7 linked regions of the Homo sapiens genome follow. The protein of the gene in region 1 purifies or fractionates together with the protein of each later gene. This does not show direct contact. Each region holds a gene or a part of one and is shown in the gene's direction. Other genes may lie near its edges. The genes, in order: DHX40, DNAJC13, SPDL1, MTHFD2, POGLUT1, PKN3 and FAM114A2.

Region 1 (4,170 bases):
TACTTGGGAGGCTGAGGCGGGAGAATCACTTGAACCCAGGAGGCAGAGGTTGCAGTGAGCTGAGACCGTGCTGTTGCACTCCAGTCTGGGCAACAGAGTGAGACTCTGTGTCAAAAAAAATAAATAAAAATAAAATAAATTTGTTGTAATTTTGTTTTTTGACAAGTGTCATTCAGTATGACAGAACTTTCTGTCATAAGGTTTGTAAAGAGCAGTATTATATTGGATATGATTTGCCTTAAAAAATAACAAATGTATTATTCTAATGCTTCAATCTAAGGTGCCATCTATTAAGATATATCACTATTTTATGTGCAGTAATCCCTTCTTATCCTTGGGAGATGCCTTCTAAGACCACTCAATGCCTGAAACTGCCAATAATACCAAACCCTGCATATACTATGTGTTTTCCTATACATACATACATACTTTTGATAAAGTTTAGTTTATAAATTAGGCATAGTAAGAAATTAACAACAACAACAATAAAATAGAGCAGTTATGACAATATACTGTAGTAAAACTTTTGTAAATGTGGTCTCTCTCTGTCTCTCAAAGTACTGTAACATTTTTGGACCTCCACTGACTGTAGGTAACTGAAAAATTGGAAAGCAAAACCAAAGGTAAAGAGGGACTACTGTATTAGTAAGAATGGAAATGCGCCATCGATTTTAAGATGCAGCTCCATTCCCAAATATATTAAAATGGTATATGGAAGGTGCATATATATATATATATAAATATAGATATATATATTTATTTATTTTTTTGAGATGAGATCTTACTATGTCGCCCAGGCTGATCTCAAACTCCTGAGTTCAAGCAATCCTCCTACCTCAACCTTCTGAGTAGCCAGGCTCCTGAGTAGCTGGGATTACAGGTGTGTACCACTGCTCCCAGCAGAAAGGTGGCATATTTAAGTCCAGTTTTAGGCTGGGTGCAGTGGCTCATGCCTGTGATCCCAGCACATTGGGAGGCTGAGGCAGATGGATCACTTGAGGTCAGAAGTTTGCGACCAGCCTGGCCAACATGGTGAAACCCCATCTCTACTAAAAATACAAAATTAGCTGGGTGTGGTGGCGCGCACCTGTAATCCCAGTTACTCAGGCGGCTGAGGCAGGAGAATTGCTTGAACCCAGGAGGTAGAGGTTGCAGTGAGCCGAGATTGTGCCACTGCACTCCCGCCTGGGCAACAGAGCAAGACTCTATCTCAAAAATAAATAAATAAATAAATAAATAAATAAATAAATAAATCCAGTTTTACTCTTGTGGCAAAAGTAAATTTATTTTGGGAAGTGTGTGGAATTTTATGAATTCTTATGTTTCAAAATTCTTGGCTTACCTTTAGAGTAGATTTTTAGACAGAAAAAAACAGACAAAGCCTGAATTCTAATTTAAAAAATATATTTTTTACAAAAAAATTAGCTGGGCCTGGTGGCAAGCGCCTGTAATCCCAGCTGCTCAGGTGGCTGAGGCAGGAGAATCGCTTGAACCCAGGAAGTGAAAGTTGCAGTGAGCCGAGATCGCGCCACTGCATTCCAGCCTGGGCAACAGAGCAATACTCCGTCTCAAAAAAGAAAAAAATATATATATATCTATATATATATATAGATATATATATAATTTTTTCTTTCTTTTTTTTTGTTTTGGCTGGGCGTGGTGTCTCAAGCCTATAATCCCAGTACTTTGGGAGGCAGAGGCAAGTGGATCACCTGAGGTTGGGAGTACAAGACCAGCCTGACCAACAGGGAAAAAACCCGTCTCTGCTAAAATACAAAATTAGCCCGGCATGGTGGCACATGCCTGTTATCCCAGCTACTCGGGAGGCTGAGGCAGGAGAGTTGCTTGAACCTGGGACGCAGAGGTTGCGGTGAGCCGAGATTGCGCCATTGCACTACAGCCTAGGCAACAAGAGCAAAACTCTGTCTAAATATATATAATATACATTATATTATAATGTATATTTATATATAATATATAGTATATATTATAATATATTATAATGTATATTTATATATAATATATTATAAATTATATAATACATATAATATGTTATATATTAATATATATAATATATAATATATTATAATATATATTATATATTAAATATATATTAGTATATAATATATATAATATATAAATATATATAATATAAACTGGATTTATATTATATATATTTATATATTATATATATAATATATTTTTGCATGGTTATTAATATGTATTATTTTAAATTAATATTTAAATTTCCATGATGCAAACATAGCAGTGTGTTTTTAATTTGCGAGATATTCTTTTGGAAACATTCAAGCAGTTTTGTGTTGATTGGCCAAAAACAATTTAGCTCTAATAGGAAGACAATTGCTAACATTGTTGTGTTTCTTTATCTCTGGTTTTGATAGGGTTTTCACAACATGGTATGATTGGTGTAACTCAACCACGAAAAGTAGCTGCTATATCAGTTGCTCAGAGAGTAGCTGAAGAAATGAAATGCACTTTGGGATCCAAAGTAGGATACCAAGTTCGTTTTGATGATTGCAGTTCTAAGGTACAAAAGTCTTGTTGGTATTTGTTTCTTTTCTTTTATGGGACAGGGTCTTGCTCTGTCGCCCAGCCTGGAGTGCGTGGCGCAATCATGGCTCTCTGTAGCCTCTACCTTCTGGGCTCAAGTGATCTCCTACCTCAGCCCCTTGGGTAGCTGGGACTACAGGAGCATGCCACCATGCCCAGCTAATGTTATAAACTTAACAGAAAGAGTGGAGAGAGTTCTGAAAGATTTTTAACTTCAAAGTTCAATATATATTTTAAAGAATTTATTTTTGTTGTTCATTGTTAATGCTTTAGCTCTCAAGTGTCTGATGTTCATCCCATTTTCTCCTTCCTTAGTTTATAAATGACAGTTTATTTTCTTAGGATTCTCTTATTTATGTTTTTTAACTGTAAGGATTCTTGACATGTAGGTTTTTAAAATGTTTTATTGTAGTAAAATATATATAACTTAAAATCGACCATTTTACTATTTTGGTATACAATTCAGTGCCATTAAGTATGTTCACAATGGGCTGGGCTCGATGGCTCACGTCTGTAATCCCATCACTTTGGGAGGCCGAGGCGGGTGGATCACCTGAGGTCAGGAGTTCGAGACCAGCCTGACCAACATGGAGAAACCCTGTCTCTTTTAAAAATACAAAATTAGCTGGGCACGGTGGTGCATGCCTGTAATCCCAGCTACTCAGGAGGCTGAGGCAGGAAAATGGCTTGAACCCGGGAGGCGGAGGTTGCGGTGAGCTGAGATCGCGCCACTGCACTCCAGCCTGGGCAACAAGAGCAAAACTCCACCTCAAAAAAAAAAAAAAAATGTGTTCACAATGTTGGGTAACCATCACCATTTCTACTTTCAGAACTTTTTTTATCATCCCAAACAGAAACTCTTATAGATTAAAACCCCCATTTCTCCCTCCCCCTAGCCTCTGGTAACTTCTTTTTTTTTTTTGAGACGAAGTCTCACACCATTGCCCGGGCTGGAGTGCAGTGGCGCAACCTCCACTCCCTGCAACCTCTGCCTCCCAGGTTCTAGTGATTCTCCTGCCTCAGCCTCCCAAGTAGCTGGGTTTACAGGCTCCTGCCACCACGCCCAGCTAATTTTTTGTATTTTTAGTAGAGATGGGGTTGGTCTCAAATTCCTGACCTTGTGATCTGCCCACCTCGGCCTCCCAAAGTGCTGGGATTACAGGGTAAACCACCGCGCCCTGCTGTATCTTCTGTTCTACTTTCTGTCTCTACAAATTTGCCTACTCCGGGTACCTCATTCAAGTGGAATCACACAATATTTTGTACTTCGTGTCACTCTTATTTCACTGAGCATGTTTTCAGGTTGATTTATTTTATGTGTTTGTATTCTTGAAGTCAATGGAAAGCTGAATTAACAAAATCAGCCAATTAACAAAATCAGCAAGTGTTAAAGCATCTTCTATATTCATGGCACCAACAAATTTAAAATTTTCTTTTTAATAGTGAATATTATAATTTACATTCCCTGTGGATTTCTTAATCCTGTCCAGCTACAAAACGATCCCTGGTTTACATATGTTCCCTAATGGGAATGGCCATCAAATGTGGCACAAGATGACTCCCCAAAATACTATCTTTTTGCCTTCCTAGTGGTCACTG
Region 2 (4,170 bases), on another chromosome or scaffold:
AGTGTTTGTGGGGCCATTTGCAGTAGCCCTAACAGTAGCAGTCAGAAAGCCAGGAGTATGTTCAAAACATCCCCCTTTGTTGGGGATGAGGGGTTAGGTTCAATATGGCAGATGCCCAATGGCTTGGGAACTGAACTTGACTTACAGCACAAAGTGGGAGAGCCATTTGCTATGGTATGTTGGGAGAGAAGGAAGAGGACTTTCAGGATTTGAGATAAGCATGGAGAGTGTTGGGTAACTAAAGACAAGAGATGGTGTTGCAGTTTAAGTATTGGAGGGGACAACCTGAGGATCTAGCAGTTGGATTATTAAAGAGAGCAGTGATTAGTTGATTTACTTTTACATGAGTTTAACAGAATACGTTTATAATACATTTTAGATATATGGCTTTTACTAATCAGAATGAGTTTGGAAACCTTTTTCAAAACCCTTGGTTGTCTTTTAATGCTGATAACTAAATTATTAGCCACAAGATACAGTTATGGCCCATCCTGGTTTCTCTGTTATCAAGGTCATCTTTAACTTTTCCCAAGAGGGGTTTATACCCAAGAAGCTCTGAGGTGGAGGTCCTGATCTGACAGGACTTAGTTATTCACTGTTCTTTCTTATTACGTATGTGTCACTTTTTTTTTTTTTAAAGGAAAATTAGGACCTGTTCCAGGGGGCCTTTTTTTTAAAAGCCAGTTTAGAAATGAGTTTTAAGGCAGATTATTGGTCAGCCTCAAAAGTCAAAAAGATTTATGCTGATTTCAATTGGAATTATAGAGATACTTTTAAAGTCACAGCCAATTAATTTGCATCTCTTTGCCTAATAGGTTAGATTGAAAAAAGAAGATGGAAAGAACAGAGTAATTAGGCATGTAGGTTTACTAGCTTTCACTTTTAAATTTGGTTATTAAAACATGGAATTAACTAAATGTAGTTTAAAAGTTAACTTTCTGTTTTGTACTTCTAGTAAGAAATTGTATTATTTTCAAATTTAAGAAAATACTGGTAAAACTTTAAGATAACTGGTAAAATAGATACCAGTTATCTTTAAGATAACTGGTAAAATAGATACTGGTAAAATAGATAAACAAGGGCACTTGTTATCCAGAAAACTTAATATAAAATATTCAGTGTCATGTAAATGTCTTCTCAGTCTTTTTTCTTTATAAAGATGTGCATATAATTGATATTAATAGAATTTCTGGTGCATTTGCTGTACCTTGCGTTCTGTGATGAGGTGAAAAGTTACAAAGATCAGCATAGAAAGTAGGTATTCTGCAAAGGATCAAAACTATACACCAAGTGCAGTTAATTTACCAGAAAATGTTATTTTTCTAGTGGAAACATTTTAGAAAAATCAACCAAGTTTACTAGAAAGGAAGGATCCAAGGGATTTTATAGTAGGTTTAATTTCTTTTTTTATCAACTGGCATTAGGAGGCATTTAAGATGTTAAGATAAAATATTTTATCTTTTTTTTTACGTTTTATTTTATTTTATTTTTATTTTTTTTGAGACGGAGGCTTGCCCTGTCGCCCAGGCTGGAGTGCAGTGGTGCCATCTCCACTCACTGCAAGCTCCACCTCCCGGGTTCACACCTTTCTCCTGCCTCAGCCTCCCGAGTAGCTGGGACTACAGGTGCCTGCCACCACACCCGGCTAACTTTTTTGTGTTTTTAGTAGAGAAAGGGTTTCACTGTGTTAGCCAGGATGGTCTCAATCTCCTGACCTCGTGATCCACCCACCTTGGCCTCCCAAAGTGCTGGGATTACAGGCATGAGCCACCATGCCTGGCCCCATTTTTATTTTTTTAAGGCAACATATTCTTGAACATGGTATCAAAATTGAAACCACAACATAATCAATTTTGTTTTGTTTTTCTAACACTAACCATTGGTTATTTCAGATTTACAGCCTTATAAATATGCAGGATACCCCATGCTTATTCGGACTATAACAATGGAAACTTCAGATGACCTCCTTTTCTCAAAAGAATCACCATTGTTGCCTGCGGCTACAGAGCTAGCTTTCCATACTGTCAACTGTTCAGCCCTCAATGCTGAAGAGCTCAGAAGAGAGAATGGACTAGAGGTAATACGGAGTGACCTTTGTGCTTTTTAAGCCAGTTTACACACATTATATGACTCTTGGCAGTGAAGAATTCAGCAAGTACAAATGCAGATTCTTTAATTTATTTCAGCAGATAACACAATATTTTCCATATTCTTATACCAAATTAAAGGTAGAAATGGAGCTTTATTTCACAATGTGAGTTGGAAAGTATTGGGTTCAAAACCGATAATGGTAATATTGTTTACAAAGTAGCTTATTAGAAATGCTTAAAAGGAAACTTTTAGGAGTCCTTTGTTTACTATTTATTAACAAATGTTGATCAAACATTTATGTATCAAATATTTAACATTAAAGGGTTATTTATATTTTATTACTGCTAGAAAAGGCCTTTCAGACTTGAAGTCAAAATGGAGAGTTAATAGCTGACTTCTTCCTCTGCAGGTGTTACAAGAGGCATTTAGTCGCTGTGTGGCTGTCTTGACTCGTGCTAGTAAACCAAGTGACATGTCAGTACAGGTGAGGCTAAAACCTGTGGTTCCAAGAAAATTGCACTAGTTCAATGGTTCAGACTTTAACATATCTGAGAATCAACTGGAGGGCTCATTAAACTGTAGGTTGCTGAGCTCCACCCCACCCCAAGTTTCTGATTCAGTGAGTCTGGGGTGGTGGCCTGAGAGTATGTTTTTATAACAAGTTTCCAAGTGTCATTGATGCTGCTGGTCTGTGTATCACACTGTAAGAAACTGTACTAAAGCACTTGTGATCTGTTGGCTTACGTTTTCTTTCTTAGAGAATAGTTTATTGAACCCATATGTTTCCATTACCCAGCTTAATGCCATTCTTGTTTCACATATCTTCCATCCCTCACTCTCCTATCTCTAGTATTTTAATTGGCTTAACATTTAAGGTTGTAAGATAGGAAATTCATCAGGAGTTCATTAAGAGCTTTGTAGAGCGTGTCTTTCTATTTGACCTTTTGCTTATGCCAGCAAAATTCAGAATATAAAACGAGTACTGGCTGTTGAGTTCCATCCTCTATTTTGAAGTCCGTTGTGTAAACAGAATTGTGATATTCTGCTATGTTAATAAACTATACAAAATTACCTTAATCCAGAGGCCAGCAAACTTCTAAAATAAAGGTCCAGGGAGTAAATATATGAGTCTTTCAGGCTTCATACAGTCTCTGTTACATTTTCTTTTGTGACTTTTTTACAGCCCTTTAAAAATCTAAAAACCATTCTTAGCTCTTTGGCAGTACAAAGACCATGGTCAGTTTGGCCCATGGGTTGTAGTAGCTGTGGTTTGCCAACTACCCCAGCATTTATAGGAAATCTTAATGAGAAAGACTAGTGATCTAGTAAAGACATTCTGTTTAATTTTGGAACATTGTATATACCATTAAGCATTATTCACAAATTTCTGCTGGTTTGATTTCTATGTGTTAAATAAGGAATGCCTATGTGACTCTACTGGTTTTTTTGCTCTGTTGTGTTGTCTGCAGGTGTGTGGATACATAAGTAAATGCTACAGTGTGGCTGCTCAGTTTGAGGAATGCCGAGAGAAGATCACGGAAATGCCTAGCATCATCAAGGATCTCTGTCGGGTACTATATTTTGGCAAGGTAGGGTTAATCTTTAATGCTTTCTAGATACAGACAGCAAAGTGTCTTTTTGTCAACTAGCCAGTTCCTAATGTATAAGCACATTGTTTTCCCAAAGTTATTTGTAAGTAAAATTATTTGGATTTCTAAAAGCATTTTTCACAGAAGCCTTGCTGTAAATGGAGGCTTTGCTTCTAGGCTGGCCTACAAAGAAAAAGACTAAAGTGATACATCTAAAGGGAAGTGGGTTCCATCTGAACATTAGAATGAGTGGCAGGGAGAAAAGAGAAGCCTGTAATAAATAAGTCTTTTAAAAGCAAAAGGCCAGCCCGGTGTGGTGGCTCACGTCTGTAATCCTAGCACTTTGGCAAGCCGAGGTTGGCAGATCACTTGAGGTCAGGAGTTCAAGACCAGCCTGGCCAACACTGCAGAACCCTGTCTACAAAAAAATACAAAAATTAGCTGGGTATGATGGCATGCGCCTGTAATCCTAGGTATTCGGGAGGCTGAG
Region 3 (4,170 bases), on another chromosome or scaffold:
TTAATAAATATCTTGTGGGAGATACTTTGAGACTAAGTAAATGGCTGTTTCTCCTTATACTTAAACATCCATTGGTGATTCTTGCCTGAAACATAATTCTGTGATGATTGCTAAATGGGTAATTCCATCACTTCTTCTATATTTATTAGTTGGAATTTTAGTAAAGGGACAGAAAAGAAAAATCTTTTTCCTCACTTACTCATTCATTTATATCAGTATAGCCTCATGGATTCTTATTTTATCCTATGAGTTATAATCCATTGCTTGCTTTATTTACTCTGATACTCAAATTGTCCCAGATTTGATAGTCGAAGTGCTCTTACTTGAATATTTCCTTACTCTATGGCACAACAAGGGTTTCCTAGCTCACCTGGCCCACTTCTGGGATTAGCATTTCTTCAAGGAACATTGGTTTATTTTAGTTGAGAATGGTATTTGTGTAAGCATTTGTGTGTGTGTGTGTGTGTGTGTGTGTGTGTGTGTAAGAATTCACCCATGTTTTCTAAATAAGTAGGCAGTTGTCCCAGAGTCATTTGTTAAAAAATCAATCTTGATCCCAGTGATTTGAGTTGACACCTTTATCATACATCAAGTTTCCATATATACTTGAGTCTGTTTCTAAATTTTCTGTCTACGCCATTGGTCTGCTTCTCTGTGTGTCTGTACCACACTGTTTTATTAATTATAAAGGCTTTTAAGTATGTTTATCTGGTAGGACTATTTCCTCACTATACTTTTTATTTTTCAGTATTTTCCTGTCTATTTTTGAATGTTAGCTTTCATTTACAAACATCTTGTCTAGCACCAAAAAAAGCTTGTTGGCTTTCTATTAAAATTGCATGCAATTTAAGATTTTATAAATTGACTTAGGGAACATTGATATCTTCATTAACCTCCTAATGAACTAAAGTTCTAAATGACAAATTTTTGTAAATGTTAATAACCTCTTAGGCATTCTAAATTGTAGCCATTAGTATGTCATAAAATCTTAATTAAGTTTACATAACTTTATTTCTGTGTCTTATAAAAACTGTTGAAAGAACTACAAATTTGGTTAAGTTGGCAGCCTTATGTTTCCATCAGTGGGCTCAGAACTATACTCTGAAAATTATGGCCTTAAATCAGGGGAATTTTATTTATAACCTGAAATTGTTTCAAGTTTTTAAGCAGATTTACCTTTTCTATCCCACTAGAGAAATGTATAGTTTCCATCAGTCTCAGAAGAGCTTGCACTACATTCTTGCCTGGGGTGGGGGGAAGAATCTCAGAAGAGGGGGACACCAGATATAAATGTAAGGCTCTCATCTTCCTTTCATATTTTTCCAGTTTATGGTTTTGTTACAAAGGCCAGAATTTAATCCAGCAGGCATTTGTTTTTCTATTTTCAAAGCCAGGAGAGAGAAGGCAGAGCATGTAGGTAAGGCTAGAAGCCTAGGCCTTGTAGTCAGATTTGGGTTCAGGTTCTCTCTTCTTGGTTTACTTTCATCTGTATTCGGAGCCTGTTTCCTTATCTGTAAGAGAGGAATGTTAATTATTTACCTACTTCAGAAGGCAGATAAATTAAATGGGTAGTTCTTAGCGTAGTACGCCAAGGGATATAAATTCAGGAAGTGATGGTGCTATTATTAATAAACATACACTAACCTTATTTGTTATTTATTTTAAGTAATACAAACTTTTGCTTTTTTAAGAATTTATATGACAGTATGGAATCTAAGCCTTCAGTCGACTCTGGTACTCTGGAAGATAACACCTATTATACAGATTTACTTCAGATGAAGCTGGATAACTTAAAGTAAGTGTCTGGGTTGGTGGATGGAAAGATGAACATGTCACTTGCTTACTATGGTAGTGTCAGTGACTACAAAGTTTTTTTGAAATTGCCAAAGGAAATTTTCCGAAAAGAAAGGTAACAAAAATATCTTTGTGCAGATATTCATGTGTGAATACATTTGAAAGACTATTTCCTCCTTTGTCCATTTCCTTTCAAGAATGCATGAGTATTTTTTAAATTTAACACTACTATTGTTAAGGATTATTTAAATTGTTTATTGTTTCTTTGTTACTAAAAACCCCAGAAAAATGTATTTTTAACTAAGAATTCAAATATGCGATGAAATATTTATACCACTACACTTATTATATGCTGTCTTAATACTCGTTGGTTCTCCTTTTTTATTATCATAGCAAAGAAATTGAAAGCACTAAAGGTGAATTGTCCATACAGCGAATGAAAGCATTATTTGAGAGCCAGCGGGCTCTAGATATTGAGCGAAAACTTTTTGCAAATGAAAGATGCCTCCAGCTTTCAGAAAGTGAAAATATGAAACTGAGAGCTAAACTAGATGAATTGAAACTAAAATATGAACCTGAAGGTATATATGTCTCATATATTTTTGTCTTTTAAATTATGAGTAACCTGAAATTATATCAAATTATTTTCTTACTGTAGTTTTATGCAACTCTATTACAAACTCATTTGTAGTTATATACCTATAGTTAATAAAGCAAATTTATTGTGTAAAATAGGTAGGAAAATTCAGGGAGAACTGGATACTGGGTGTGCCTGAATATAACATGTATCCTTTTTGGATATCTAATTTCATCATACTGTATAGTAGAAACTTGAGATTTGAGACTTTCCCATTTTAAGATTACAGTATTTTATGTCATACCTAATAGTTTAATTATGTTGAAGCAGCTGATGTTTGGAAGCTATACGAGGTAGGACTGTTTATAGAAAATCTAAAGTAATGGAGACTTTAAAAAGGTGGGTCTTTATCTCTGCCTCTGATGGAAGTCTGGAGGAGGCCTTCCAGGACTGGGAAAGCACTCCACGGTATCAAGATTCAGGCTTCTTGTGTTTGTTGGTCTGCTGCCATCCTGTGGAGCAGAATTTAGTCATGCAGCCTCACCTGCTGACAGGAAGGGCTGAGAAATGCAGTCTTGATTCTCAGGGGCCATGTTCCTAACTAAATATTGGGAATTCTTTTATTAAGGAAGAACAGTGAGCCAGGCGTGGTGGCTCGTGCCTGTAATCCCAGCTCTTGGGGAGGCAGAGGGAGGAGGATAGCTGTGCCCAGGAATTTGAGATTTGCTTGGGCAATATAGCAAGACCCCATTCTCCACCAAAATGGGGGGGAAAGGAAAGAACAATGAAACATATTAGGGAATATCTAGCAAGTCTAATGACTGAGCTGGAAAGTAGCCTAACCATACAGTCTCTGCATCTTATATACTACAGAGAGTGAAGTTTACTGTATGTAAATTCAAAAACAAAAGGCCAAGTGTGAAGGAGTCTAAGAATGTGATGGTTCTACAACACCCCTTCCCTAAAAGAGTGTTACATGTTTTAGGTTAAGGATTCTCAACAAGTTTTTGTCCCCGCACTCTGCACATGCCTCAGTCTCTCTTCGTATTGTCTCAGTGAACTGCTATGATTCTCAACAATAGTGGGGAGGTTGCCAAAAATAGGAAGGTTTTTACACAATTTTAAAAGGCTTCTCTTGCTCTTAACTCTTTTTGTTTCTTCCATGATTCTAATAGGCTCCCCTGATTAAGAATTATCCATTATGAATTTCAAACATCTGTTGAACTGAACACAGCAAATAGACAGGAGGCAGGGTAGTGAATCCTGATAATGTGGGTTTCAAAGGAGCAGTGCCAGAAAAAGGGGAAATCATGGTCTAAAAGCAACAATGTAGAGCAAAAACAGCAACCCCTTGTGCTACCAGTGTTCCTCAGACTCCACTAACATTTTGATTTTGAAAATGAAACACATCGATAATGGGCATAGGGAAAAGATATTAGAGCAGTTAATTCAGTGGCTGTGTTTATGACCTGTTTAGATAGAATGATATTAGGCCATGAGGATAGAAGGCATTGCAGTAGTCTTTGATGAGACATGATAGGATTGGACTAGGGAAGTATCCATCATAAAAGTAGTCTGATTCTGCTTATATTTTGTAGGTAGAGCTAACAGGCATATATTACCAATATTCAGAAAGTTTGGCCTATTCTTGTCATTTAATCCTTCTAATACACAATACCAAGTGAAGTGGGTGCTTTTAATCCCCATTTTACAGATAAAATGAAGCTCAGAGAGGTTAAATAATTCCCCAAAGACATGGCTGTCACATACGAGGATTAGGATTCGAACCTGGACTCTGC
Region 4 (4,170 bases), on another chromosome or scaffold:
GTGAGTAACTGGGACCACAGGAGCATACCACCATGCCTGGCTAATTTTTTTTTTTTTTAACTTTTAGTAGAGATGGGGTCTCACCATGTTGCCCACGCTAGTCTTGAACTTGGCCTCCCAAAATGCTGGGATTACAAGGCCTGTGCCACCATGCCCAGCCCTGGGAATTTTTTCTAAACACATCTGTGAATGCATTTAATTCTGGGATAAATGTTAGCTAATATAGTTACAATTTTGGATTCCCCGTGGGACTTAGCTGACTCTCCATTTCCCTGTTTATTTTGGGGTAGCAGTTAATCTGCCCCTTGGCAAAAGAGATGATGCTAAATTAGTTAATGACTCACTCCCAAGGCTGTATTTCACATTTTGCAGAGTTGTGGGAAGCAGAGGAGGGCTGACAGTTATACTATGAAAGATATTCATTGCATGTGACTTTGTTTTTGGTTCTTGTTACTCTTTGACTGTTTTTCTTTCTTTTCTTTTTTTTTTTTTAAGCAAATTGGCATAACATCCAGAACCTGCTTTTGGAAGCAAAGTTTGGGACTTGGAACACTGGCTTTTCCCAGAACCCTGTGTCCTTAACTTCAGTATATGATTTTATCTGAATGTGCTAATACCATTTTCTCTAAGTTTACTGCTTTCAAAAGAAACTTTTTATGAGGTGCAAGCTAAGTCATTCTCACTGACTAGATATACATATAGTGTATATACTTATATATATCTCCTTATGTGTAAGTGTATCTATTTTAAGGATACATGTGTATGTGTGTGTATATATACATATATATATAAAACCAAGAGAAAAGAGTAAGAAATTAGTTTTATTGAACATATATGCCTGGCACATTATATATGTTTGTTATTTCATTCAACATAAATGACTGTTCTAAGCCGTTTTAAAGTAGTCTTTCACTCTGTAGTGTTCCAGGATTAGGAATGTATTTTTGGCCTGCGGTGGGCATTCCAGGTACTAATACAAATCAGGAATGAGGAATGTTGCCAGGTGTATTTGTATCAGCAAAACCCCCCTATTTTAATTTTTTTTTTTTGAGATGGAGTCTGACTCTGTTGCCCAGGCTGGAGTGCAGTGGCACGATCTCCGCTCACGGCAGTCTCTGCTCACTGCAACCTCTGCCTCCCGGGTTCAATCGATTCTCCTGCCTCAGCCTCCCAAGTAGCTGGGTCTACAGGTGCGTGCCACCATGCCCGGCTAATTTTTTGTATTTTTAGTAGAGACGGGGTTTCACCATATGAGCCAGGATGGTCTCAATCTCCTGACCTCATGATCTGCCTACCTTGGCTTCCCGAAGTGTTGGGATTACAGATGTGAGCCACCATGCCCGGCCTGCAAAACCCTTTTAATGAAGTCCTCTTCGACTCTAATTCTGAAATGGAATTGTGAATATTAATATGTTTTCAATTTCTTCATATACCATGGGTATAATTAAATGCTATTATATGTTGTGCCATGCTAGTATTATATAAAATCAGGGTAAAAGTATTTGATTTGCTGTAAGATTGTAACTTTTTTCTTTTTTTGAGATGGAGTCTTGCCCTGTTACACAGTCTGGAGTGCAGTGGCGTGATCTTGGCTCACTGCAACCTATGCCTCCTGGGTTCGAGATATTCTCCTACCTCAGCTCCCGAGTAGCTGAGATTACAATTACAGGGTCCTGCCACCATGCCTGGCAAATTTTTGTATTTTTAGTAGAGGCGGGGTTTTGCCATGTTGGCCAGGCTGGTCTCAAACCCCTGACCTCAAGTGATCTGCCCACCTTGGCCTCCCAAAATGCTAGGATTACAGGCATGAGCCACCGTGCCTGGCCAGATTATAATAATTTAATACTTCACAAGATGCAATACAGATTAAGATAAAGTTTATATATAAGATTATTGCATTATATCTAAGATGTTGAGATTTGGTTTAAAGTTGGTATTTAATCATAATGCAATAAAAAACACTTATTGAAGGCCTAAAGATTGTGAAAGCTTTAAAATCCCATTTAAATTAGCAGTTACTGGCCGGGTGCAGTGGTGGGTGCCTGTATTCTCAGCTATGGAGGCAAAAGCTGGAGAATTGCATGAACTTGGGAGGCTGCAGTGAGCTGAGATTGCTCCAGCCTGGGCAACAGAGCAAGACTCTGTCTCAAAAAAAATAAATAAATAAATTAGCAGTTATCTTGAGAATTAATTTTATCTGACCCTACAGGATATTCAGTACCTTGATGTTAGGTTTTAGAATATAAGAGGAGATTACTTCATTGGTCTTGAGGTTAGAGCAGTCTTCATGACACCAAGGACAGAGATCTAAAGGGAAAGGCTTTTTTTAATGGGATCATTTTACTTAAGGAAGAGATGCTCATCTAGTTTAGTTTAGTTTAGTTTAGTTTAGTTTAGTTTAGTTTAGTTTAGTTTAGTTTAGTTTAGTTAGTTTAGTTTAGTTTAGTTTTTTGAGATGCAGTCTTTCTCTGTCGCCCAGGCTAGAGTGCAGTGGGGTGATATCAGCTCACTGTAACCTCTGCCTCCTGGGTTCAAGCAATTCTCCTGCCTCAGCCTCCTGAGTAGCTGGGATTATAGGCGCGCACCACCATGCCTGGCTAATTTTTGTATTTTTAGCAGAGACGGGGTTTTGCCATGTTGACCAGGCTGGTCTGGAACTCCTGACCTCAAGCAATCCACCCTCCTCGGCCTCCTAAAGTGCTGGGATTACAGGCTTGAGCTACCACGCTGGGCCAGATGCTCATCTTTAAGTAATGGGCACTTTACTGTAAGGACATGTGTGAAAATAGGAAAACTGGGACTCTTCCACATTTGGGTTTCATGGAACCCAGGAAGAGTTGCATAAGCAGTTCTCTTTGGGAAGAGACAGCCTTTCGGGCAGCTGAACATGGTTTTGGGAACTGGAGGTTCTTCTAGATCCTGATTTTTCTTCTTGCTCCCCACCTCAGCAACAGTTTTCTGATTTCTTGCCCTGTTGTCTCCCATTGGTGTGACTATTATTCTGCCTATTCTTTCTGTCTTTGTTCTGTGGTTCTAGTTTGAACTGCCTCAGGGACGAGCTCTTACTGGTTCAACTAACTCTCACTGCTCTGTTGAGCTAAGCTTTTGCGCCAACTGGACCACTGGCCAGCCTAGAGATTGTTGCCCTTGGCGTCACATACTCACTCCTGGTCTGTCAGCTTTGGATGATATGGTGGGGTCCCTGGGAAGAGCACATTGCCAACTGTGAGAAGGAGCTTCCTCCAGTCCCCTGCCCTGCCCCTATTCTTACCAGGAAAGTCTTCCCCAGAAGGGACTGTGGGGAGTGGTGGTCATTTTGATGTTTGACCTGTCCAGTATGTTGTTTGTTTGTTTGTTTATTTTTGAGACGGAGTCTAGCTCTGTCACCGAGGCTGGAGTGCAGTGGCACAATCTCAGCTCACCGCAACCTCTGCCTCCTGGTTTCAAGTGATTCTCCTGCCTCAGCCACCTGAGTAGCTGGGATTACAGGAGCCCACCACTACGCCCAGCTAATTTTTGTATTTTTAGTAGAGACAGGGTTTCATGTGTTGGCCAGGCTGGTCTCGAACTCCTTACCTTGTGATCTGCCCTCCTCGGCCTCCCAAAGTGCTGGGATTACAAACGTGAGCCATCGTGCCCGGCCTATATTGTTTGTTTATTCAACTACAGAATATAATTTATCGATTTAAACCACCATAAAAATGAAGTCAGTTGACTGGGAAATGATTTGAAATACATGCCTGGCTGCTAACAACAGGGACAAAACACGAACTACAAATGGCATATAAGCAGATAAGAAAAACTATTTAACCTCATGGTGAGGGGTCAAACAATTGCAAATTAAAACTGTAAAACACTTAGTAATGATCAGGGCGCAGGGTGGTGTAGCAGTTAAGAGCCCAGACTGATGTGAGACTCAGCTTGACCAAGCGCTGTCAGTCACTTAAACTCCCTGAGCTTCAAATTAATGATAATAATGATTTCTATCAACTTTATCCCCCTCCATATGTAGCTGGATATATTCATTCATTTATTTATTTATTTAGCAGAGACAGGGTTTTGCCATGTTGCCCAGGCCAGTCTCAAACTCCTGGGCTCAAGCCATCCTCCTGCCCCGGCCTCCCGAAGTGCTGGGATTACAGGCATAAGCCACTACACCTGGCAGAGTTT
Region 5 (4,170 bases), on another chromosome or scaffold:
ATATGGATTTCTTTATTCAGCCCTCTATCAGTGGACATTTAGATTATCCCTTACCACATCACTTTGCTTTTTGGATAACGCAAGCAATGCTGCAGTGAACATCCTTGTTACTGTGAACACTCATGTAAATATATATGTAGGCTAAATTCCTAAAAGTATAATAACTAGGGCAATTAATGTCATTTTAAAATCTTGATAAATAGGCTGGGTGAGGTGGCTCACGCCTGTTATCCCAGCACTTTGGATGGCTGAGACAGGCAGATCATCTGAGGTCAGGAGTTCAAGACCAGCCTGGCCAACATGGTGAGAACCTATCTCTACTAAAAATAAAAAAATTAGCTGGGCATGGTGGCCTGTGCCTGTAATCCTAGCTACTCGGGAGGCTGAGGCAGGAGAATCACTTGAAACCCGAGGTGGAGGTTGCAGTCAGCTGAGATTGCGCCATTGCACTCCAGCCTGGGCCACAGAGCAAGGCTCCATCTCAAAAAAAAAAAAAAATCTTGATAAACAGGCTGGGCACAGTGGCTCTCACCTGTAATCCCAGCACTTTGGGAGGCTGAGGTGGGAGGATCACTTGAGCCCAAGAGTTCAAGATCAGTCTGGACAACATACCAAGACTGTCTCTCCACACACACACACACACACACACACACACACACACACACAAACACATACAGAGTTGCCAGGTGTGTTGGCACACACCTGTAGTCCCAGCTACTCAGGAGGCTGAGGTGAGAAGATTGCTTGAGCCTAGGATTTTTGAGGCCACAGTGAGCCATGATCATGCCACTGCACTCTTCAGCCTGAGTGGCAGAGCGAGAGACCCTGCCTCAAATAAAAAAAACCTTAAAAAAAGAGAAATCTTGGTAAATAGAATCTAATTGTCCTACAAAGAGGCTAAACACTTCCACAACCGATATATCATATGCTGTGAATAGATCTCACACCCTTACCAACACTGCACTATTGGACTTTTTGATCTTTGCCAATCTGATTGGTAAAATTGGTATCTAGTTTCATTGACATTTCTTTATTATTAATACAGTTGAGCATCTTTTCCTATGTTTGTGAACTGTTGATATTTTTTGCAGTTATCTCCCTATATAAAAAACACTTTTTTTTTTTTTGGCTAGAGGAGCTCACTACATTGCCTACTGTGTCACTATGTTGCTGGTCTAGAACTCTTGGGCTCAAATAACCCTTCTGCCTAAGTCTCCCAAGTAGTAAAACAATATTTTAAATCAGTTATTTCCATGCTGCCAGAAAATTTTGATCAAGCCTTTGAATATTGCCCCTAGCATAGTGCTGGTCAGGACCTCAGAGGATGAGGCAGAAACAAGCTAAACTGTCAGTGTATCTTCTTTTTCTTTCAAGAAATCCCTGATTTCCCAGGGAATCTAGTCAGAAAGCTGTGTTACACTATTTATGATTATGTATATAACACTTTTTCTGGCTTGCAGAACTGATTTTGATAATGTTCTTTATTCAGGTTGAAGGTAATGAAAGGTTTTCTATCTGTTCTCATAAACTAGGAGACTTAATTATAATGGAAATAAAAATGGTGTCTTTGTGAGGAGCAAAGCCAAAGGAACACAGGTGGAAAATTAGCTATTTCAGCTATTACGAGAGTTTGTATCTTGTCTACTAATTAAACTATTCCATATAAGGGAAATAAAGAAAAGAACTGGAATGAATAAAGTGGTAGAAGTAGCAATAATACTCCCTTCAAAGCTATGACGATTTATTTGGAAAATTTTATTAAGTATTGTAAGCTGGAGCAGCTTAGCTATGAGTGAACTTGCACAATACAAAAAAGCAGAATAGCCCCTTTAGAAGCATTGTTTTCAGGAGACTTTGCAGTAGACTGATGATATGGAACACTGGAACACTGGCTTGTCTTACTTTAAAATGTGAATGGGACCTCGCCTTGTCCTAGAGCCTGCAGGCACTACTCTGCTGAATTTATGGTATGTCTGGTTGACAGGTGTAGTGGTGTTGAGCACTTTATTTTGGAAGTGATCGGGCGTCTCCCTGACATGGAGATGGTGATCAATGTACGAGATTATCCTCAGGTTCCTAAATGGATGGAGCCTGCCATCCCAGTCTTCTCCTTCAGTAAGGTAAGTACAGGGAGAGCCACATGGGTGGATGGAGAGTGGTCCTCTAGGATATGAGCATGAGATCTTTGTCCGGTGACATAGTCTGATGGATAATGGTAAGGATGAGGACTGAGGTCCAGAAATGGGTCTGTGTCTCTATTAGCATCACAGTGATTGAGCAAAAAGACAGAGGAGATGAAGTTGAGAGCTGGTAAGTAGTGTAAGATTGCTTGAGTGTCTATAGGGCTAGAGATGGAGGCTAGGGCGTGAGAGGCCTGAGAAACCTACAGGAATTAGAGGTGGGTCTTGAAGATCTTACAGAGCATGGGAGGAAGGGGTCCAAGAAAGCTTGGAGTTAGGGAACACCTTCATTCCAAAAGTTTGTTGAGCTCCTACTATGTATATATTCAGCCATAGTGCTGGGTATCAGCTGTCCCATCTGTCACCATATTCCGGGGGCCCAGGGTGGCTAAAAGTGAACCTGAAGGTGCCAGATAACTCCACACGGTGTGTGTACAAGCCGTGCATTGAAGGGATAGGCTGGAGATAGCCTAGAGGGCTATGCAAGGGGGTGATCTTTTAGACTCATCATGGAAGATTGGAGTAGCTAGGATACACCTGTGGGCTTGGGGAATTGGGGGCAAGGAATGTCTTGTCAGTGCTCAGGTTCATGTAAATGTTGTATCGGCAGGGATGGGCCTTGGTTCCCTAGAGACAAGGAAAGCATTTGGGGGTGAAGGCAGGAAGGCTAGAAGAGAGTGGATGGAAGATTCTATGGGGTAAGAGTGAATTGAGGAAAACCCCATGAAATTTGGGAAAAGGAACACTATTTCTGATTTGGTTTGTCTAAAGCAGAGGGACCTTTTATCCCCACTTTTTCTTTATCATAGTTTACTTTCTCCCTAGACTTGTTTTATTTCCTGTGTTGCAAGTGGGCAGAGGCCACATTTGTGTTGCATTTCCCATGGTCTAGCCTCATTTCTCGAAAGTGTTTGGTTCCATTGTTTGTCATGAAACTCACTCAGAAGAACAGATAGAGGCTCCCATGTAAGTCAGTAGGGACTTCGTGTTTGTTATCTATCTGTTGTTTCTATGGATAATAAAGTATGACCGTCGGTATACTAACTTTCCGTTCATCTTTACTTCCCTTCTGTTTTTTAAATCAGTGACTTCTAGTTTCCAAGGGAGAGTTTTACTCTGTCAACTTTATAGTTAATTGTGCAGCTTCTATTGAATAGCTGTTATGTTTAAGGTGCTTGATGAATCACATTTTTTACATATTTGAGAGACAGCAAACAGCATATTGCACATGTATTTCCAGTGGAAGAAATAGTAGAGTTAGAGGTTTATCAGTGGCCAGATTTTTAACAGAAGTAACCATAAAAAGGGAACAAATGGAGGCCAGGTGTAGTGGCTCACACCTGTAATCCCAGCACTTTGGGAGGCCGAGGCAGGTGGATCAAAAAAAAAAAAAAAAGGGGGGAACATATGGCTTTAAACTTTTTTCTTTTTTTTGAGGCAGAGTCTCACTCTGTTGCCCAGGCTGGAGTGCAGTGGCGCGATCTCAGCTCACTGCAACCTCCACCTCCCAGGTTCAAGTGATTCTCCACCTCAGCCTCCTGAGTATCTGGGACTATAGGCACCTGCCACCATGCCCGGCTATTATTTTGTGTGTATTTTTTAGTAGAGACAGGGTTTCACCATGTTGACCAGGCTGATTTCAAACTCCTGACCTCAGGTGATCTACCCGTCTCGGCCTCCCAAAGTGCTGGGATTACAGGTGTGAGCCACCGTGCCCAACCTCAAACTTCTTTCAAAAGATATGTGATAACACCCCTTCTCATTTTGCTCATCCATACTTCTGACCCCGATCAGTGAATAACCAAGAATTTATTGACCAATCAATGTGAGCCCAACAGTGCCATAGTATGAGATAACACTAGCCAATATTTATCAAGTATGTACAATGTGCCAGCTACTGTTCTAAGAATTTTACGTGTATCAACTCATTTAATATTCAAAATAAACCTTTTAGTTAGATCATATTATTGATATTATTGTTTCCCCCATT
Region 6 (4,170 bases), on another chromosome or scaffold:
CGCCCGAATCCTGCTGCCCGGCCCTGGGCCTGGCCCAGCTGGTGAGTGAGGAGCTGAGACCCCCTCAGGACAGAAGGCTCTAGGCCCATCTGGCCCCTGGCCTTGGCCCTGGCCACTGTGGCGAGACCACCTCATTTCCTGCCTATAGATCAGTAGGGGAAGGAGGAAAGGCCACAGTGGGGGTCTCGGCTCTGGGTGAGGGACTCCTGTGCTCGATACCCCCGTGCACAGAGCCTGTGGCCTCAGGACCCCGGCCGTGGGCAGAGCAGCTCAGGGCTCGGCACCTAGAGGCTCTCCGGAGGCAGCTGCATGTGGAGCTGAAGGTGAAGCAGGGGGCTGAGAACATGACCCACACGTGCGCCAGTGGCACCCCCAAGGTAAGGCCCCACAGTCTGATGGCAGGAGCACCCTGGCCCCTGGTCTGACAGGGAAATGCACCTCAGCCATTGGGCTCATAAGGAGACACCATTCCAGCCTGCAGCCTGATGGGGAAAATACAGCCCCAAACCCCAGCTGGGTGAGGAAGGCATGGCTGTAGTCTCTAGTGTGACAGAGAAGGCCTTGCCCTGGTCTAATGGGATCCTAGCCCAGCCCCAGTCCCAACTCCCAGCATGATGTCCAGAACTGGGCCTCAGTCCTTGTCTGACAAGAAGACTTGGCTGTGGCCCTGATATGATGACGGAGGCAGGACCTTAGCCTTGATCTAATGGGGGAGGCTTAGCTTAGCCCCTGCCCTGATCTGATGGGGGAGGCTTATCCCCAGCCCTGATCTGATGGGAGAGGCTTAGCTTAGCCCCTGCCCTCATCTAATGGGGGAGGCTTAGCTTAGCCCCTGCCCTGATCTGATGGGGGAAGCATCAACCCTGCTCTGATGGGGGAGGCATGACCACAGCCCTGATCTGATGGGGGAGAGTTAGCCCCAGCCCTGATCTGATGGGGGAGAGTTAGCCCCAGCCCTGATCTGATGGGAGAGGCATGACCCCAGCCGTGATATGAAAGAGGAAATTTGACCCCAGCCCTTGTTGGTCAGATGGAAAAGGCTCCCCTGACCCACCAACTAGTCCAACAAGGGAGGCTTGACTTTAGTGTTTGGCCTAGAGGTTTCACTTTAACCCTGTTTTGATGGGGGAGACCCGGCTCCAGTTCCTGGTCTGATGGGGGAAGCTGTGGCCCAGGCCTGGTCTGATGGGCCTGTGCTATGGCTCCATAGGAGAGGAAGCTCCTGGCAGCTGCCCAGCAGATGCTGCGGGACAGCCAGCTGAAGGTGGCCCTGCTGCGGATGAAGATCAGCAGCCTGGAGGCCAGTGGGTCCCCGGAGCCAGGTGAGGCCTTGAGACACAGGGAGGGCGGAGCAGGGAAGAGCAGGGCCTGAGAGCCGCCGTCCTTCCCACAGGGCCTGAGCTGCTGGCGGAGGAGCTACAGCATCGACTGCACGTTGAGGCAGCTGTGGCTGAGGGCGCCAAGAACGTGGTGAAACTGCTTAGTAGCCGGAGAACACAGGACCGCAAGGCACTGGCTGAGGTCAGGCCCCAGCCCTGGCCCTCTCCTAAGGCTGGCTTGTTCCCATACCACCCTCAGCAGGGGTGTGAAGGGAGGGTGGCCGTGTAAAAGCAGGACTTCTCTGTTGAGACTTCATGCGGAAGGTGGCTCCGGGTGACCTGGGCTGCTGCCCCCTGCCATATACCCCACGAACCTGGCTCTACGTTGTCCCCTCTGCAGGCCCAGGCCCAGCTACAGGAGTCCTCTCAGAAACTGGACCTCCTGCGCCTGGCCTTGGAGCAGCTGCTGGAGCAACTGCCTCCTGCCCACCCTTTGCGCAGCAGAGTGACCCGAGAGTTGCGGGCTGCGGTGCCTGGATACCCCCAGCCTTCAGGGACACCTGTGAAGCCCACCGCCCTAACAGGTAGTCAGAAGTTCCTCCCCCTTCAAAGCTCTCCTTCTTTTTGGGGGGAGGCCGGAAGCACAAACAACTCTGATGAAGAGTTCAAGAGTTCCAGTCCTGCCCCAGCACCCACTAGCAGCGTGACCTTGGCAAACTGACATTCCTTCTTCAAACCTCAGTTTATCCATCTGTAAAATGTGGATGATATAGCACCTACCTCATAGGGTTGCTGTGTTGCACGTGATGTGCTAAGCACAGTGCCTAGCACAGTCAGCACTCGGACAGCGTAGCTTGTATTTACATAAATAACCAGAATAATGCTTAAAGCACTGGTGTTAGGAAGCTCGCAGCCCTGGAAAGCTTGATACCCAGCACTGGGCAGCTTGGACTGTTAGAAAGTTTTCTAGGCTGGGCGTGGTGGCTCACGCTGGTAATTCCAGCACTTTGGGAGGCTGAGGTGGGTGGATCATGAGGTCAGGAGTTCCAAGACCAGCCTGGCCAAGATGGTGAAACCCTGTCTCTACTACAAATACAAAAATTAGCCGGGCGTGGTGGCGGGTGCCTGTAATCCTGGTTGCTCAGGAAGCTGAGGCAGAGAATTGATTGAACCCCGGAGGCGGAGGTTGCAGTGAGCCGAGATCACGCCACTGCACTCCACCCTGGGCGACGGGGCAAGACGCCGTCGCAAAAAAAAAAAAAAAAAAGGTTTTCTTGGGCCAGGCATGGTGGCTCATGCCTGTAATCCCAGCACTTTGGAAGACTGAGGTGGGCGGATCACCTGAGGTCAGGAGTTCAAGACCAGCCTGGCCAACATGGTGAAATCCTGTCTCTACTAAAAATACAAAAAAGTAGCTGGATGTGGTGGCACATGCCTGTAGTCCCAGCCACTCGGGAGGCTAAGGCAGGAGAATTGCTTGAACCCAGGAGGTGAGGTTGCAGTGAGCTGAGATTGCGCCGCTGCACTTCAGCCTAGGTAACAGGGCAAGACTCCATCTCAAAAAATAATAATAATAATTTCCTTGGAAAAAAAATAATAAAATTAAACTAAAATTGCTGGGTGCAGTGGCTCACACCTATAATCCTGGCACTTTGAGAGGCTGAGGTGGGAAGATTGCTTGAGCTCAGGAGTTTTTTTGAGACCCAGTCTCAAAAAAAAAAGAAAAAAAGAAAGTTTTCTTGGCTGGGCACAGTGGCTCAAGCCTGTAATTCCAGCACTTTGGGAGGCTGAGGTGGACGAATCATTTGAGCCCAGGATTTCTAGACGAGCCTGGGCAACATAGTGAAACCTCATCTTTAGAAACAAAAAAAATTAGCCGGGCGTGGTGGCGCATGCCTGTAATCCCATCTACTGGGGAGGCTGAGGCAAGAGAATTGCTTGAACCTGGGAGGCAGAGGTTGCAGTAAGCCAAGATTGCACTGTTGCACTCCAGCGTGGGTGACACAGCAAAACTCTTTCAAGAAAAAAAAAAAAAGAAAGAGTTTTCTGGTCTGGCTCAGTGGCTCATGTTTATAATCCTAGCAGTTTAGGAGGGTGAGGCATGTGGATCACTTGAGTCCAGGAGTTTGAAACCAGCCTGGGCAACATGACAAAGCTCCATCTCTACAAAAAATACAAAAATCGCCGGGCGCGGTGGCTCACGCCTGTAATCCCAGCACTTTGGGAGGCCGAGGCGGGCGGATCACGAGGTCAGGAGATCGAGACCATCCTGGCTAACACGGTGAAACCCTGTCTCCACTAAAAATACAAAAAATTAACCGGGCGTGGTGGCGGGCGCCTGTAGTCCCAGCTACTCGGGAGGCTGAGGCAGGAGAATGGCGGGAACCCCGGGGGGCGGAGCCTACAGTGAGCCGAGATCGCACCACTGCACTCCAGCCTGGGCCACAGCGAGACTCTGTCTCAAAAAAAAATAAAAAAATAAAAAAATTAGCCAGGTATGATGGTACGTACCTGTAGTCCCAGCTACTTGGGAGGCTGAGGTGGGAGGATTGCTTGAGCCCAGGGAGGTTGAGGGTACAATGAGCCATGATCGCGCCACTGCACTCCAGCCTGGGCAACAGAGAGCCCGTCTCAAAAAAAAAAAATTAGGCTGGGCACGGCAGCTCATGCCTGTAATCTCAGCACTTTGGGAGGCCGAGGTGGGTGGATCACCTGAGGTCGGGAGTTCGAGAGCAGCCTGACAAAAATGGAGAAACCCCGTCTCTACTAAAAAATACAAAATTAGCCGGGCCTGGTGGTGCATGCCTATAATCCCAGCTACTCAGGAGGCTAAAGCAGGAGAATTGCTTGA
Region 7 (4,933 bases), on another chromosome or scaffold:
TGATAGTTAAGTTTTAGATGTTAATTGAAAAAATGTTTTAACTACCAAACTCTTACTTCTCTAGTTTTAAATTCTTTTGACATTACCATCAAGGAAATGATTTTAATTCTTTAATTACACAGTTTTAATCAAGTAGTCAGGGAAACTATTTTGATCATTGTAATAATTTTTAAAAATATAAGTTTGTGATTTAGTAAATGGCAGAGTGGTGCAGTAGAAAAGACTTTGTAAACCAGGAGCCCCGTGTTGCCCTGGATCTTCCTTGATTTGTTGTGTGACTCTGACAAACTTCGTTATTTTCATGTGCAACATAAGAGATTTAACTAGACGATATCTGAGGTCCCTTTTGTGTGGGAAATTGAGTATTAAATGTCACACTGAATTTTAAATAGTACTTGCCATTGATAAATTTTAAAAAGGTAATATCACTTGATATGGGCTCCCTATTATTTTTAGTGGATTTTTTTTTTGGATACAGATTTGAAACACTCTTGTCTTCGAAATTATACATTTTTATCTTAATGAGCTCTCTGTTGATATTCTTTTGAAAGGTGAGGGCTTTTCAGTATAAATGAAGTCCAGCAAACTGAGGGTAATGATTCTCTAACACTTCTGAAAAATGTTGTTCAAGATAGAAATATATCTATACTGTCATCTTTGAAAGCAGTATATGTGTGAAAGATGTTTATGTGTGTGAGCAGTTATTGTGCTCACTGATCGCATTGAGTCCATGGAAAAAGAGCTATCATAATGGGCTAGAAATTCTATAGGTGTAGGATTTATAGCCTTCTGAAAGCCTCTTTCAGTAATTGACCACAATATTGTGACAGAATCTACCCTACTCAATAAAGGAATAAATAAGCTTTGAATGCCAAGTCTGACCATGTTGCCAAAGAAAAGCTACCATGTCTGATGGGCAAGTTGTACAAAATGCTGACATTCTCTTTTGGTGCTCATATCATCTTAAGAGCTAAATTCTTCTCCCTATAATAGAGTTTACCAAAATGGCCAAGTCACTGCTCTTACTTGCCAGGCTATGAATTCAGTTAGATTACAAAAATTAATCTGTTCCCCTGTTGCCTTACAGTATATCTTCTCTTTTAAATAACTAATATTTTCTTTTTCTTGTTTTTTCAATCCTGGCAGGCATCAAACAGTGCCTCCTACATCCAGGACGCCTTTCAGCTACTCTTACCTGTGCTAGAGATCTCTCTCATTGAGAACAAGATTGAATCACACAGACATGAGCTGCAGGGCCAGAAACCTTTGTTAGAACATTGAAGAATGGAGACGTTTTGACCTGGGACTTGTGACGGCCAAGGAATGCCACCTTATTCTGGCTACTCCTGCAGAAATGAAGGAGTGGGGTTATTTTAGTATATAAAAATTCAGGCAGGAGAGATGGTTTAAAGAGGAAGATTGTTGCCTTCAGTGTTTGATTGAAGTATTCAGGTTCTCACAGTATTCTTTCCAGTTGTTGTAATTCATAAATTATTTGAAAAGAAACTTTTGTAGAAAGTCCAAGAATAATAACTCTAGATAAAGATTAGTGGGACACTCAGGCAAAAATGTTGGTCTTTCTTTGACATGTTGCAAAATGTTATCAATTTTGTCATGGATATAATTTGCAGCCCATGGATATAACTGGTTGATAAGCCAGAGAAAAATAATTTAGTGTTCTAAAATTCATGGCATGTGTGGTTTATTAATGCCATGTACTTTCTCCTTTCTGGAATAAAATCTATGGCTTTAAGAAAACTGAGCATATGTAAACTCTGTGATGATTACCCTTTATCACATGAATTCTTGGAAATAGAAAGTTTCATCTGCTTTTTTAAATTCTTAGTAGATATTTGGCATTGAGGAGAAACTTGTAGACTATTATAGCCATGTGAATTAACTGTAGCAAAGTGCCCTTTTTCTTCAAATTGCTCCCCCTCCCCAGGATGACACACTTCATGTCATAGCTGAACCCTACTCTACTGGATTCAAGGCCAGTAAATGCAATTTAGAGAAGCAGTTTTATGTTTGCAGATATTCTGAGTCTCTTCAGGATGTGTTTCGTGTCTACCATATATGCAGGATAAATTCTTTAACAGCAAACTCCAAAGGAATGTTGAAGCTGTTTTAGCAATGAGGATTTTTTTGTTTGAGTGTTGAAGTGGGCCATAGTCCTTTAGAAATGATGTTCATTTATGATAGGATTTAACTTCTAAGGCATAGTTTATTTTTTCCTCTTTCCTTTTTGTTTGTTTTAATGTATTCTTTAGCATGTTTTTGATATAACTTTTATCCTCCAGATCTTAAGCTTTCTTTTGCTCTCTTCAGCAATTTAAGAGACTATTAAGCTGTCGTCTTCCTAAAAGCTATTTTGGTATCCACTCTTTTTAAAAAAATTCTCCAACTTTGTGGTTTTTTAATGATTAAGGTAATTTGTTAGCTCTGCCCCTCATCTTCTAAAACCTTTGTAATAAAATGTATTAATCATGTTATTTGATCCTTTCATTTACTTTTGTAAACACGAGCCCTAATATCTTACTTAGACCAAAAAAAAAAAAAAAAAATAGCAAAGCAAAGCCATAACATAGATTAGTATAAAGACTGTTTCTACGTAATCTTCTTTGGGGCAGGAGTCAGTTAGTAAGCAAGGAAGAGAAATAAATTTGGTTTAAAAAGGTATACCAACAGCACTACAATGTTACTCTGCCTATATTCTGTCTTAATATGATCAGAAAGTTTTTGAATATTCCTTTTTAAAGACAAATTTCACCCTTTCCAGCTTGAATATTTCTGAAGTTTCAGAAAAACAGTTGCCTTCTGGTTACAAAGGCTGGTGTCACCAGTTCTGAATTGTTGCCTCAAGCTTGGTTGATGTGTCTGAACCTGTATCCCTTGAGGGCAAAGTTTAGAAACTGGTCACTCTGCCTACTGTCTGTTCAGCCTCTTGTACAATGGCAGTTTGGCAGCTTTAAATCCTTAACCTAGAAATGTATTTAAGGTTTTTCTTTCAAGAAATGGGGTATACATATGAAGGAGAGAGTAACAACTCTTTTTATACACCTATTCAGATTTCAGCCCTGAATTTGGCAAATTTTAGATTAGGTCTCACATAAGGTAAATATGACTCACTAACTCTTTTTTTCTCATCTTCCCCACCCCCCCATATATATTTATTTATTTTAATGGAGTTAGGGACCACTAGTGAAATGATGAAAGGCCCAATTCTGAGTAACAATTGTCTACTCTTCACATAAAATATACTGAAAAAGAATTAAGATTCCTTGATCCAGTAGACATAGAGAAACATAAACATTCATGACAGATGAGTAGGTAAATTCAGGGATCACTTTGGAACTTGCTGGATTATGGTGATGGTTTTTGGATAGTATGTGCTTCATTATTTTATTTGGGGTAGTTACAGTGTTTTAGTTTTTTGTTAACAGCTACACTTTTGGTACTATTTTCCTTTTAAATTTTTGGTGTCTAAGATTTACCACTAATTACTAATATATGCCTTTCCAATTCACTTAAAACCTTAATAAGTGAAATGTTCAGGTATTGCTAGGGTAAATGTGTCTTTTCCTACTATTGAGATTTTAAAAGGCTGTGATTAAGAGAGACTTTATTAATTTGATCTGAAAGAAGTAGAAACCTCTATGAAACAATTTTTATTTTCCTTTGCATAATACCTTAGAAATGTGTTAAGGACAAGCTATATTTTCCTTACTTGCTTTTGATAGTTTTTTTTTTTTTTTTTAAGCATAGATATCCAGGTTGGCAGGCCTCTGAAATGTGAAATTGTAATTTTTATAGATGGCATTACTATGAATCTGAAATCAGTGCTAGGTGTACAAATGTGAATTTTTCAATCCTGTAATCAAAGAACAAGATCTTGTGGGTTCCTACTGCTGAAAAAGGATGCTTTCTTTTGTACTTGTTTTTAGTGAAAGACCTTTTTGAGGGAGAGCTATTTTATAGGTAGTTGCTATTGATATCTCCATTTGAGAAATAGACATTTTTCTGTATTTCTAGAGGTGTTCTGAATTTTAAACCTGAATTCTTCAGTTTAGAAAACCCAGAATAAAATTATACCCACAGTGGGCACTCAACAAGTGTGATATTTCACAAATGTCAGAGACTGAGCTGTTTTATTATCTCTTTGTGTGTGTGTGTGTGTGTGTGTGTGTGTGTGATGGAGTTTCACTCTTGTTGCCCAGGCTGGAGTGCAGTGGCGTGATCTCGGCTCACCGCAACCTCTGCCTCCTGGGTTCAAGTGATTGTCCTGCCTCAGCCTCCCGAGTAGCTGGGATTACAGGTGTGTGCCACCACACCTGGCTAATTTTGTATTTTTAGTAGAGACAGGGTTTTTCCATGTTGGTCAGGCTGGTCTGGAACTTCTGACCTCAGATGATGCCACCTGCCTCGGCCTCCCAAAGTGCTGGGATTACAGGCGTGAGCCACTGTGCCTGGCCCTTTTATTATTTCTTAACAACACATGATATCTCTTTTCATAAAAGACTTAAAAAGCATTTGAGAAATGAGAAAGTTCTAAAAATAATAAGCCTCTTAGTTAACATGTCATAAAGGCCTCTGGCAACTGTATGAAGAGAATTTTGAAAACTTGCCCACTGGTCTGACTCTCTGAGTATATCCTTGATGTTCCTCAAACACTAGTTCATTCGGTCCTCCCTACTTAACTTGAAGCCCATCCTTCCCTGTTACTGTATCGTCCAGCCAAATCCCAAAGGCCCTTCATGTTTAATTATCATTTCCCCAGGCAAGTCCTAAAGACAATTTTTTTAAAAATCTGAATATTCTCTCAACTCATTTGTCCTTTGAGCTAAAAGCAAAGAAAGATTCATTATAGCTGTCACTTCACCCTCACAAGTCAATGTTGAACTTACCAGACATTTAAGTGTCTGACTGGCCTACC

What was found.
Region 2: the proteins of DHX40 (region 1) and DNAJC13 purify together in Homo sapiens (affinity purification with mass spectrometry; one large-scale study listed by BioGRID and IntAct). This does not show direct contact.
Region 3: the proteins of DHX40 (region 1) and SPDL1 fractionate together in Homo sapiens (co-fractionation; one large-scale study listed by BioGRID). This does not show direct contact.
Region 4: the proteins of DHX40 (region 1) and MTHFD2 fractionate together in Homo sapiens (co-fractionation; one large-scale study listed by BioGRID). This does not show direct contact.
Region 5: the proteins of DHX40 (region 1) and POGLUT1 fractionate together in Homo sapiens (co-fractionation; one large-scale study listed by BioGRID). This does not show direct contact.
Region 6: the proteins of DHX40 (region 1) and PKN3 fractionate together in Homo sapiens (co-fractionation; one large-scale study listed by BioGRID). This does not show direct contact.
Region 7: the proteins of DHX40 (region 1) and FAM114A2 fractionate together in Homo sapiens (co-fractionation; one large-scale study listed by BioGRID). This does not show direct contact.

What each region holds. Positions count from the first base shown.
Region 1 is NC_000017.11:59,568,116-59,572,285, forward strand, and holds part of DHX40 (probable ATP-dependent RNA helicase DHX40), read left to right. Parts: intron 1-2,402; coding exon 2,403-2,548; intron 2,549-4,170. UniProt on the Homo sapiens protein: Probable ATP-dependent RNA helicase.
Region 2 is NC_000003.12:132,497,234-132,501,403, forward strand, and holds part of DNAJC13 (dnaJ homolog subfamily C member 13), read left to right. Parts: intron 1-1,892; coding exon 1,893-2,077; intron 2,078-2,500; coding exon 2,501-2,575; intron 2,576-3,560; coding exon 3,561-3,680; intron 3,681-4,170.
Region 3 is NC_000005.10:169,596,785-169,600,954, forward strand, and holds part of SPDL1 (protein Spindly), read left to right. Parts: intron 1-1,691; coding exon 1,692-1,795; intron 1,796-2,187; coding exon 2,188-2,375; intron 2,376-4,170. UniProt on the Homo sapiens protein: Required for the localization of dynein and dynactin to the mitotic kintochore.
Region 4 is NC_000002.12:74,201,480-74,205,649, forward strand, and holds part of MTHFD2 (bifunctional methylenetetrahydrofolate dehydrogenase/cyclohydrolase, mitochondrial isoform A precursor), read left to right. Parts: intron 1-4,170. UniProt on the Homo sapiens protein: Although its dehydrogenase activity is NAD-specific, it can also utilize NADP at a reduced efficiency.
Region 5 is NC_000003.12:119,475,329-119,479,498, forward strand, and holds part of POGLUT1 (protein O-glucosyltransferase 1 precursor), read left to right. Parts: intron 1-1,984; coding exon 1,985-2,120; intron 2,121-3,005; exon of another isoform or gene 3,006-3,146; intron 3,147-3,848; exon of another isoform or gene 3,849-4,170. UniProt on the Homo sapiens protein: Dual specificity glycosyltransferase that catalyzes the transfer of glucose and xylose from UDP-glucose and UDP-xylose, respectively, to a serine residue found in the consensus sequence of C-X-S-X-P-C.
Region 6 is NC_000009.12:128,705,503-128,709,672, forward strand, and holds part of PKN3 (serine/threonine-protein kinase N3), read left to right. Parts: coding exon 1-41; intron 42-231; coding exon 232-377; intron 378-1,210; coding exon 1,211-1,322; intron 1,323-1,393; coding exon 1,394-1,521; intron 1,522-1,719; coding exon 1,720-1,903; intron 1,904-4,170.
Region 7 is NC_000005.10:153,989,324-153,994,256, reverse strand, and holds the end of FAM114A2 (protein FAM114A2), read left to right. Parts: intron 1-1,146; coding exon 1,147-1,281; 3' UTR 1,282-4,109; downstream 4,110-4,933.